Homo sapiens: one gene and its partner. The main gene of each other region encodes a partner of the protein of the gene in region 2 in a complex. Each region holds a gene or a part of one and is shown on either strand. Other genes may lie near its edges.

Region 1 (7,032 bases), on a different chromosome or scaffold from region 2:
GTGTAGAAGAGGCTACAAGTATTGGAAAGTACTGGTATAACTGGTCTCAACCATTTTTGGAGATTGCCAGTACAAAGGAATATAACTTACTTCCTGTATGAATCATATACCAAAGGCAATTGCTTTCCTCATTGTTGATGAACTACTGTAACAGAAAAGGTCTGCTTATAGTGGAATGTTTTCTGTTACCCTGTGCAACTTCTGTGGCATTTAAGTTATACAGATCTGCTCTACTATGATTTTATTAAATAGGAAATGCCCTTAATATTTAAAATTCTCTCTCCTGTCTCCCCTAAGAAAATTATCACAATGTAGTTTCAGTTATTTCTGTTTTCCTTTGGAAAACCAAAAACACTACAAAATAAAATTCATATGAAATGTAAGTTATCAATTATTTACATTTTTTGAACACTTAGACAAGATTTTGAAAATCAGCTTTGTCTCATATCCTTCCTGCTTTTCCACTAACCTGGCACATATTTCGATTAGTGTCTCTAGTCAATACCTTTAGCCAAAGAGAAAAACTAATACATTAAAACAACTAGGCTAGGCGCAGTGGCCCACGCCTGTAATCCCAGCACTTTGGGAGACTGAGGCAGGAGGATCGCTTGAGTCCAGGAGTTTGAGACCAGCCTGGGCAACATGGTAAAACCCCATCTCTACATAAAAATACAAAAATTGGCCAGGCTTGGCTGTGCTCAAAGCAGGAGGATCACTTGAGCCCAGAAGGCGGAGGTTGCAGTTGGAGCCGAAATCATGCCAACGCACTCCAGCCTGGGTGACAGAGCAAGATCTTCTTAAAAAAAAAAAAAACCCACAACTACACAAACCAATATATCAGAGTCACCAATGGATTTTTAATTTATCATTTTGCCTTGATTTCCTTTATTTCCCTTTTATGCCACTAATAAAATTTTCAAGTTTAATTTTACTCCCTGAAAATGAGGGTATCTTTCTCATATCTAGCCAGTTTCCCCACCTACCTATATCCAAATTACAGGAAGATGAGGCTGTCTTCAAGATATATTTTTCCCAAAGCTGTGGGTTCCCAGTTTCTTCTGATAACCACATAGCTGTGGGTTCCTGCAACACTGCCCACCTCCACCACATTTCCCACTCTCATCTTGCCCCAGGTGGAGCGGGGCAAATGCTGGCATGTTCTACAGCCACAGTGAGGCTTCCATGGGTGACAGAAAGGGGAGCGTGTGATAAAAGGCCCTCGAATGGCCTCCTGGGAGGGGCCATCATTGCACAGCACACTGTCAGCCCTGGAGTCAGTAGCCAATAATGCATTTTCCTATGGTTCTCTACTTTCCTGGCTTGGAGTGGTGTTTGAAGGGACCACTTGGAGGAAGTACTTGGAAAGCAGGCACGGTTGGTACCTCATGCTGGAGAGACTTGCACATTTCCCGGACTTTGTGCTTGTCCATCTCCCACTGCTCCACAAAGAAAGTGTGAACCAATTTTATCCTGCAAACCAGAAACAGGAACTGAATGGGCCTCTAACCAGACCTCTGAAACAGGAAGTAGGGCACAGTTCTTATAGCCACCAGAGGGGAACTGCCCTATAAACAGAGAACTCCCAAAAGGCTGGCTCCAGCCAAGGCCACGGGTGAGACAAGCCTGTGTTATGCGCTTATATAATGCACAGGCTTCACCCAGAGATGGAACCAGCTCGAACTACCAACTGATAATGTCTCAAGCAGACAACAGGTGACCAAATTAAGGAAAGAAACCAGGATCCTGGCAGCCCAGGAAGCAGAGCCGGTCATGACAACATGCAGCTGATGATGTGGGGTAAGAAATTGGTACTCTAAAAACTAATTTTGTGCTCTGGAGTTTTCTTTTTGATTTTGCTTTTTTCCGTCCGATTTTCTAGTTAAGCTCTTTTAAAAAAATTATAGTTTTGCCTTAATTGACCCATTATCCAAGAAAGCAAGAAGCAGCAGTGCTGTCAGTTTGTGTGCGGTGGGTGGCAGCTGCTACAATGGTGTGCCAGGGAACGTGAACAGCTCAGAGAAAAACCATGTGTTGGACACCACTGGGATTTTTTTAAAAAATCCTTCCCTAACTAGAGTTTTCCCTTATGAGTTTATCTACGTTTGCTCTTTTGATAATTTTACTAAGGTTCGTTTCTCACGTGAAGCAGTGGCTGAAAGGTGGGAAGGGGCTGCAGGGCGGTTCCAATCAGAGGCTCTCAAACACAACTCTGTTGACTGGTGTGATAAAGTTTTCACTCATCCTTGGAGAAATGGGAAAAATAAATAACAAGTCATGAGTTTTTGCACACATTTTCTGTATGTGAAGATCTGCCCTTCATTCTAAGGTTATGTCCCCCACTAATTTTTTTTTAACATAAAACTTTCCTTTTTAAGAAATCATGGCAATAGGTGGCTGGTTGTTGATTTTCTTGTCTCTCTGTCTCTCTTTCTCTCTCTCGATTTTCCTCACTTTCTCTACTTATAATACTCTTACTTGGAAAAATTTAAATGTTGGCAAACACATGTCAGTCCTCCAAATTTTTTTAACTGGTTCGTGGGAACCACTATTTAGGACATACAGACTTTACTCTCTCCTTCAAAATATATGAGACAATATACTCGGAAAGTATATTGAAAGTAGAAATGCAGAAGTGGGCTGGACAATTTTCAAGAACTTCTCCATCTGGGATAGATGGGATACAAGGTTATGTTCTGTTTTGTTTTATTGTTTTACCAAATAAGATTAGAAGTCCTAAGGAGCTTTGCTGGAAGCAAGTTGGAGCCAAAGCCTGGCAAGGTCAGATGCCTCTCCAGCAAGATGGCATATTAACACATGGGCGACTTTTGTCACAAGCTCAAGTAAAGTGGGAACATACCATGGATGAGAATAGAAAAGCTAAGTTCTTACAATTTTAACTAGCATGTGCTTCCTTCCTGTTACCTATGATTGCTACAGGGTGAAAGGCTGAGTAAGCGGTTGCAATCTGCAGTGAGCCAAGCTGAAAGGCCCGGGCGGATGTGAAGGCTGGTGGTAAGGAAATGGGAAGCAGGCAGCCAAGCTAACCCTGTGTCCACTGAAGGAGTGAGGTGGCCTTGAGCACAGCAGCATCCCTGGGTCTTACGTCGGCCAGAAGTAGAAAGGGAAGAAGCCTAAAGGAAGTGAAAGTGTTGCTGGATCTCCTGCTGGCATTGCCTCCTCCTTCACACAGCATCCCGGTTCTCCCTGCAGCCACCTGATCTTCCCTTTGTCCCCTTCCTCACCACAGCCCCACCACCTTCACCACTCCAAGTTGATGCTTCTCCTACATCTGGCCAAGATGCTACTCAGAGGTGGATGAAAGCAAAAGTCACTGCTCTAATACAAGAAAAGTCCCGGTTTTAGGTTTCAGAAACAGAATTTTCCCGAATGTTTAAAATGGTGAATGGTTCCATAAACTGTGTTAACCAGGCTTCTTACAGGCTAGTCCCAGAATCTGACCACCATGTGCAATACTGTTTCTAAGAAAAGTGTGCTCCAAGCAAGAACCTTCAAACATTTAACCTGAATGAATGAATATAACCTCTTCACGGTTCAGTGTTTTCATAAGCAAAACAAGAGAATAGCAGCATTGATGTCTTTTAAAAAAAATTTAGGGCTGGGCGCGGTGGCTCACGCCTGTAATCCCAGCACTTTGGGAGGCCAAGGCAGGCAGATCACTCCTGAGGTCAGGAGTTTGAGACCAGTCTGGCCAACAAGATGAAACCCTGTCTCTACTAATAATACAAAAAAATTAGCTGGAATGTGGTGGCACATGACTGTAATCCCAGCTACTCAGGAGGCTGAGGCAGGAGAATCACTTGAACCCAGGAAGCAGAGGTTGCAGTGAGCCGAGATCGAGCCACTGCACTCCAGCCTGCGTGACAAGAGCAAAACTCCATCTCAAAAAAAAAAAAAAAAAAAAAAATTTGGAAAGCTTCCCATTTGGGATCTGTCCACCTACACAGGGCAACACGATAGTATTGACATCTCTTAGCTTTTACGGAATTTTCTGCCTACAATGCAGAGGGCAAAGAAGGGGTATTGTCAGCTTGGCTTTGCTGTCTCTGAGTGACAGTCTCTTGTATACGTAAATAAGATGAATTTTCATAAAAGCATTGACAGAGCATTAGCTTCACCTCAGAAAGAAAATGAAAAAGCAAATGACAACTGTAGTCAAAGAAGAAATTAAAATATAGTTAAATAGTAAACAGATCAAGAAAAAATCAGTGAAAACCTTTAACTTGCAACCTATTCTTTTTAAAGACATCAGTACACAAAGATTGGGAAAGTTTATTAAAAATGTTACCAAACTTTAAGTTCTTCTTTTTTTTTTTTTTTTTTTTTTGAAACAGGGTCTCATTCTGTCACCCAGGCTGGACTGCAGTAGCACGATTTCAGCTCACCGCAGCCTCAGCCTCCCAGGCTCAAGGGATCCTCCCACCTCAACCTCCCGAGTAGCTGGGAATAAGTTCTTACTCACTCCGTTAGGTTGAGCTATTCGAACATCACTGTTTCCCATGTAAACGTTGAGACCTTCATTAGGCTCTCCTTGCTTACCCTGCCATTTCACTTCAGGTGTCACCACCTTTAAGAAGCTACCCCTTGCCAGGTGTGGTGGCTCACACCTGTAATCCCAGCTCTTAGGGAGGCAGAGGCAGGAGGATAGCTTGAGCCCAGGAAATTGAGACCTGCCTAGGCAATATAGCGAGACCCCATTCTCCACAAAAAGGAAAAAAGCAAACAAAAAACAAGCATAAGAAGCTACCCTTGAACCCACTGTATCCTCAATCTGATTTTTGAAGCTGATTCCTGGGAGCCCAGCATCCTGGCACAGAGGCACTGCTAAGGCAAAGGCATTGGTCTGCCCTCCCCACCAACTCTGAGCTCTTCAGGGGCAGGAATATGATATATACAAGCAGTTCATTTAATCTCTACGAGCTGAAATGATTCATTTGTCTTAATAATGCTGTCATTTTAAAGTACAGAATTTGAGAGCTGGAGGGAATCTCAGATACCAATTATTCCAACACTCCACTCTTTTCTGAGGCTTTAAATGACTTGCTCCAAGTTAGAAAAGAATCAGGACCCAAAGCCAAACCTTGAAAATGCTGTTCTAATGCTTTGTGCCTGCATCCCATGCCACCTTGCCTTTGTAAATTCACAGGATTAAATAAGGGAATCCTAAAAAAATGTGTTCAATTCCCCCTTCACTTCTAACCCTGGTCAATTTTACAGGCAAAGAAACACCACTGGAGGCAATGAAGGGCCGTTCTCACAATTACATGGTTCACAGCAGAGCTGGGATGAAAACTCGGATCTAATATGAGGGACCATGTTCTTCCCACTATCTCATAAAAATTCAACTTTCAAGTACAGGTCATGGGTGTAGAGCAAAGGTCAGCATGGCACAGGGGCCAAATCCTGTGGGCCACCTGTTTTTGAGTATGGCTTGCAAGCTAAGAATGGTTTTTACATTTTAAAATGGTTATAAAACAAGAAATCATACTTTGTGAGGTATATGAAGTTCAAATTTCAGTGTCCACGAATAACGTTTGGTTGGAACATAGTCATGATCATTTGTTTAGGTCCTGTTTATGGCTGCTCTTGAGTAATAGGGCAGAGTTGAGAAGTTGTGAAAGAGACCTCAAGAAATGAAACCACACACCTAACACCATCTGATCTTCAACAAAGTCAACAAAGTAAGTAATGGAGAAAGGACTCCCTATTCAATAAATGGTGCTGGCTAGCCATATGCAGAATAAAATTGGACCCCTATCTATCACCATATACAAAAATTCATTCAAGATGGATTAAGGTTTAAATGTAAGACCTCAAACCATAAGAGTCCTAGAAGAAAGCCCAGGAAATACCATTCTGCATCAGCCTTGGGAAAGAATTTATGACTAAGTCCTCAAAAGCAATTGCAACAAAAACAAAAATGACAAATGGGACCTAATTAAACTAAAGAGCTTCTACACAACAAGAGACACTATTAAGAGAGTACAAAGACAACCCTCAGAATGGGAGAAAATATTCACAAACTACGCATTTAAGAAAGGTCTACAAATCAACAAGCAAAACAACAAATAACCCCGTTAAAAAGTAGGCGAAAGATATGAACAGACACTTCTCAGAAGAAGGCATACAAGCAGCCAACAAACTTATGAAAAAATGTTCATCATCACTAATCATCAGAGAAATGCAAATCAAAACCACAATGAGATAACATCTCACACCAGTCAGAATGGCTTTTGTTAAAAAGTCAAAAAATAACAGATGTTGGCGAGGCTGCAGAGAAAAGGGAACACTTACACACTGTTGGTGAGAATGTAAATTTGTCCTGCCACCGTGGAAAGTAATTTGGAGAGTTCTCAAAGAACTAAGAGCTGAACTACCGTTCGACCCAGCAATCCCATTACTAGGTATATACCCAAAGGAAAATAAATTGTTCTACCAAAAAGACACCAAACCAGATATTGAATGTTCTCACTCATAAGTGGGAGCTAAACATTGGGTACAAGTAAACTTAAAGATGGGAGGCTGGGTGCGGTGGCTCACGCCTGTAATCCCAATACTTTGGGAGGCCAAGGCAGGAGGACTGCTTGAGGCCAGGTTTGAGACCTGTCTGGGCAACATAGCAAGACCCCGTCTCTACAAAAAAAACATAGTAAAATAAAATAAAATTAGCCCAGCGTGGTGGCTCATGCCTGTAGTCCCAGCTACTCGGGAGGCTGAGGCAGGAGGATCACTAGAGCCCAGGAGTTCGAGCTAGCAGCGAACCATGATCATGCCACTGCACTCCAGGCTGGGCAACAGAGTGAGACCTTGTCTCTAAAACAAATAAAATAAAATAGAAACAAAGGGTTTGGATAAAACTGATGCACTACCTTCATTCTGTCACATTTTCATGCTTTCATGCTGACTGAGAGGGCACTCATCCTGGGAGTTCATGCCATCCAGATGGGCAGGGGTTAAACTGAGACCTGTCTAGGTTGAAAGAAGCAGTACGAAGGGACAGAGTGGGCGCAGGAA
Region 2 (5,030 bases):
AATAGGCATTTAAAACGAGTTCCCCTCGGGAGTCTAGACATAGCCTATTTTTTATACTCCCACATAGCCCCCAAACCCAAACCTACAAGCACATGTTAAGTTCTTAATTCCCTGCATCTTGATTGTGCTGTATATCCATTTGGGTCCCATTCTGCAAATCTTCACTCAAACATGAATCTCTAAGCGCCCCCCGCCCTTTTTTTTTTTGACAGAGTTTTGCTCTTGTTGCCCAGGCTGGAGTACAATGGCATGATCTTGGCTCACTGCAACGTCCGCCTCTCGGGTTCAAGCAATTCTCCTGCCTCAGCCTCCCGAGGAGCTGGGATTACAGGCACGCACCACCATGCCCGGCTAAATTTTTTGTATTTTTAGTAGAGATGGGGTCTCACCATGTTGGCCAGGCTGGTCTCAAACACCTGACCTCAGGTGATCCACCCGCCTCAGCCTCCCAAAGTGCTGGGATTACAGGCGTGAGCCACCACACCCAGCCAGAATCTCTAAGCCTTTGTAAGAAAACACACAGAACAGCAGCTGGCCAAAGCAAACATCCAATGTTAGAAAATGTAAGCACAAACTGAAAATTCATAGGGTTTTAAATTCTAAAATTCGGAATACTAAGAAGTAATCAATTAAGACCAGTTAGGTTTGGACTTTCAAGGAATGAACTCAAATATGATCAAATATTCACATCTCTGGTATCACCTAGGATTGGCTAACATTATGCTTAAATATATTAACTTGTAACTGCTTCTGCATCCCAGAGACATATATGCCTGCTTGTCTGGCAAGGTTGGACATCCTGTTACAATCTATATTCAGGTCTCTCCACTTTGAAAAGGAACTAGAATCAATCAAGGAGACTGTGACTACTACCAGTCACATAAAAGTATTTAATTAGTTTCACACTTAGAAAAGAATCCAAGTCTATTTTCCAAGTGCCCAGTCTCAGCCACCACTTTACTATTGTACATATTTTCAGTTCTACCATAGTATTTCCTATATGGTAAATGAGAGAATACAATCAAGCCAAATTTATTTCTTGACCTTTCCCTAGAGGAATGTGTAAGACCATCATTGAGCATAGAGCACCAGTTTTCAAAGTCAAAGTTTCACTCTCCATTTGAAGCCTGACTACAAATAACCTAAGATAGCAGCTTCCAAATTGGCTTTGACTCATTTTAAAATATGCATTGAGCCATGACAAGACTGGTGACTCTTTTGCAGGAAAAACATAATAAACAAATTGAGCCCCAAAATTAAGCCACTAGACATATTCTTTCTCTTTCTCCCCCCACCCCCTATAACAGCATGAAGTAACAGCTGTTAACTGGAAAAACAAAGACCATAAGCCAGAGCTGCAGGAAAGCCCATCGTTTTTACTAATCACACTGCTGCTCCACTTTCTGAAGGACAACTCTTAAGTGGCCAATTTAAAAAAAACATACCAGGGTGGGCACAGTGGCTCACGCCTGTAATCCCAGCACTTTGGGAGGCCGAGGTGGGCGGATCACAAGGTCAGGAGAATGAGACCATCATGGCTAACACGGTGAAACCCTCTCTCTACTAAAAATACAAATAATTAGCCAGGAGTGGTGGCACATGCCTGCAGTCCCAGCTACTTGCGAGGCTGAGGCAGGAGAATCACTTCAGCCTGGGAGGAGAAGGTTGCAGTGAGCCGAGATCAGGCCACTGCACCCCAGCCTGGGCGAGAGTTGACACTCCGTCTTAAAAACAAACGAACAAAAAAATTCCAGTACTTTACACACAAAAAGTCATTGGATTTTCCAATTTCCTGGCACTAGGATGTTACATTGACAAAAGCAGACGTAAAGCCTGGATTTGGGACAATCAAGGAATAGTTACAAACACATTATTCAAATTCCAAAACAAAGAATCTCAGGTTGGAAATTTTCCTTAATCTATTGGGAACTACTATGTAGAAAACATTAGTTAATACTAGTGAAGTGTTTTCATTATTCCAGGATCAACCTAGTTCAGATGACTGATGCACATTAAATAGGCAAATGTGCCAAGTTTCAGGTTTTATTTACTTGAATAATATCACATCTCTACTGGGCGCGGTGGCTTATGCCTGTAATCCCAGCACTTTGGGAGGTTGAGATGGGCGGATTGCCTGAGGTCGGGAATTCAAGACCAGCCTGGACAACATGGTGAAACCCTGTCTCTACTAAAAACACAAAAATTAGCCAGGTGTGGTGGCGGGCACCTGTAATCCCAGCTACTTGGGAGGCTGAGGCAGGAGAATCGCTTGAACCCAGCAGGCGGAGGTTGCACTCAGCCGAGATCGCACCACTGCACTCAAGCCTGGGTGACAGAGCAAGACTCTTGTCTCCAAAAAAAAAAAAAACAACAAAAAAATTCCCACCTCTTCAGTCTAGCTATAAAATATAATTACTTTATATATATATATATATATATATATATATATATATAATTATTTTACCTCCTTGGCTTGGGGGTCAGGAGAAATCAGTAAGTGAGGTAAAAGAAAGAGCTGCGAGGGAAAAGGATTGTTGCCCTAGATGCAGAAGGTATCTTTTCTCCTGGAAATAAAGACCCCAAGGTCTCCATTGCACTTTTATTTGAATGTAATATTTGGGACAATTATTCAAAAGGGCCAATATTTCCCAATTTAATCTGAGGTCATAATAAAACAAGCAACAAAACAGTGTTTGGGATTTCAGTTTCTCACCCTTATCATCAAGACTCACTGCCTCCCATCATCAATATTTATTGAGCATTTACAGTGTACTAGGCACAATAGAACATACAGAAAACATTGTCCCTGCTCTTGAGGAGCTTACATTCTAAAAGAAAAAATACACCTTTTTTAAAATGGCATTTTTGTTTGGTGTTTTCTGCAAAGTACTGAGGAAATATTTTGTAAAGTGAGCTTTGGGTATAACTTAGCCCCATCATTATTTAGAGAATAGAGGAGGAAGAAAGAGGAAGGATTTTAAAGGCAGACAATGACAGACCATTCAGGATAGGTAGGGTTTTAAAGGGAGATAAACACAGTCTCATCAACTAAGGAGAGATTTGCTGCAGTAAATAGGATGAGGGAAATAGTCTGTGGGATGCAAGCAAAGGAAGCAGGGTGCCTTAGACACTGAGTGGAGCCAGAAAGATCATGCGGCCTTTTTCCAAGTACATGGCCACCAAGTAAGAATGGTTGGTGACAAGACAGAAGGCTAAAACAGGAAGGTAATCTTGTGCACCTGACAAATAGAAAGAATAAAGGATCAAAATTGAAGGCAGGCTATAAGAGTATCAAGAAATTCTTAAAAACCAAAAAGTGATTTGGAAGCACAAAACTTACAGTTAATGCTACCCAATGTCATGATGGGCCAAGAACATTGTGGCTTCCTAAGTTAGAAAATGCCATATGCCAAAATTTTAAATGGAACACACTACATTTTTTTCTAATCAATCCCCCCCTCTCCCAGAAAAAATAGGAACTCATTTTTTTCAGGGTGGGGAGGAAGAGAGGGGATCATGGGACATGGAAACAGTAGTTATATTAGTAGTATTTTTGTTATGATAAATTTTGTGTTTAAACTTGGTAAGAGCCCATTAGCTGCCAAGAGGGAATAAGGAATAAATTTCAAAAAATGTACAATTTCCTTTAGAGAAGTTTCAGAACCAAGACTAATTTACATGAAAAGCTGTAGAGAAAGTAGTTGAAAAGTCCATTCATAAAACTTTTATTCCACTTACATGAATTTAATACACGTGTTCTTAACAATTATGCTTGGATTGTTCATGAAAATTTCATAAGACATTAAACAAAGCTAGCCATCATCTCAAGTTATTTCCCTGTTAACTATTTTTACAGCACATGCATGTTAGGCAAGTATCAAAAAAAAAAAAATCACAAAAGCAAAAATCCTAAAAAAAAGTTAAATACATGGGTTTTTGTTTTACTGCTGTGCTTGATATACATGAAGTAATGAATACCAAGCAATTCATTTTTCCTGCATCTTTACTTTTACATTTGTTCTTAGGTTGCCTAAAACATTTAAATACAAATAAAATGAGTGTAGCAAAAATAATGAAAGCTAACAGCAGGTAACTTTACAAATAATGGAATGTGAACCGTTTCTGCCCTTATCCAGAGTAAAATGGGTCACAACTTTGTCTAAAGGAACACTTCTGCAGCTGTAGTCAAAGGTGTACACATTGAGTATTCCACAGATATACATGGTTTAATATGTGGTATCCATGGGGTATGATTCTACCACAGCCTTGTAAGTGCTCCAAACCTTAAAGTACCCACAATTACTACACCTGTGACTGGAACCAATGATCCCTTTTATTCCCCGCCAGGACAAACCAGTATGTAGGCAGTTTTCTTTGCTTAGACATGGAAGCAGTTTTACACTGGCCCTTTTGAAGCCACAATGTACCAAAAGTACTATGCCAAACACTTATAACTTGTATAAAAATTCCACATCCCCATATTGGCCACCTCAAGATGAAAACAGATAACTCCCTAAATGTTAACTGGCTCTACTCCCCTAATATTAAACATAAAAACCACATGGGAAATATAGAAATTCAAATAGAAGTAACATAAACCTGTCATAAATCGTAAACAAAAAACTATTTGTGGGACAGCATGGATGACAAATGGTCTACTGTGTAAATTTTAGAATGAGGCAGACAAAAGTTGGAAGGCCGGTTAATTTTCCCCTCCTTCTCCTGCTTCAGCTTCGTCTCCTTGGGTATCCGATGTCCACAACTGGTAAAAGAAGGAAAGATTTTTCAGCAAGTTTCAGTGGGATGGGGGGGGGGGGGCGTTTTCATATAAGTGCCAAGATACCTGAATGTTTTAGTTGGAAAGCATTCTTAAAAAGATAGCAGCATCACTTAGCTTCAAGATACAAAAACATCTCAATATACAAATTTACTTTTTTTGTAACCACTATATAAGCAGGTTAAGTACACCACAGAGTTGCCTTCAAATAACCTTCAGATACAGGAAAGTTTTGGTTATCCACAGAAGGTGA

The links.
Region 1: the proteins of YWHAZ (region 2) and MAP3K5 are in contact, whole or in part, in a crystal structure (PDB 6EJL), measured with the Homo sapiens proteins. Residues at the interface, in NP_001129171.1 of Homo sapiens: Val46, Lys49, Asn50, Arg56, Lys120, Arg127, Tyr128, Glu131, Gly169, Leu172, Asn173, Val176, Tyr179, Glu180, Ile217, Leu220, Asp223, Asn224, Leu227, Trp228; in NP_005914.1 of Homo sapiens: Ser964, Ile965, Ser966, Leu967, Pro968, Val969.

Annotation. Positions count from the first base shown.
Region 1 is NC_000006.12:136,782,478-136,789,509, forward strand, and holds part of MAP3K5 (mitogen-activated protein kinase kinase kinase 5), read right to left. Parts: intron 3,578-7,032; exon of another isoform or gene 2,938-3,577; intron 1,798-2,937; exon of another isoform or gene 1,570-1,797; intron 1-1,569. UniProt on the Homo sapiens protein: Serine/threonine kinase which acts as an essential component of the MAP kinase signal transduction pathway. Plays an important role in the cascades of cellular responses evoked by changes in the environment.
Region 2 is NC_000008.11:100,915,991-100,921,020, forward strand, and holds the end of YWHAZ (14-3-3 protein zeta/delta), read right to left. Parts: intron 4,763-5,030; coding exon 4,703-4,762; 3' UTR 533-4,702; downstream 1-532.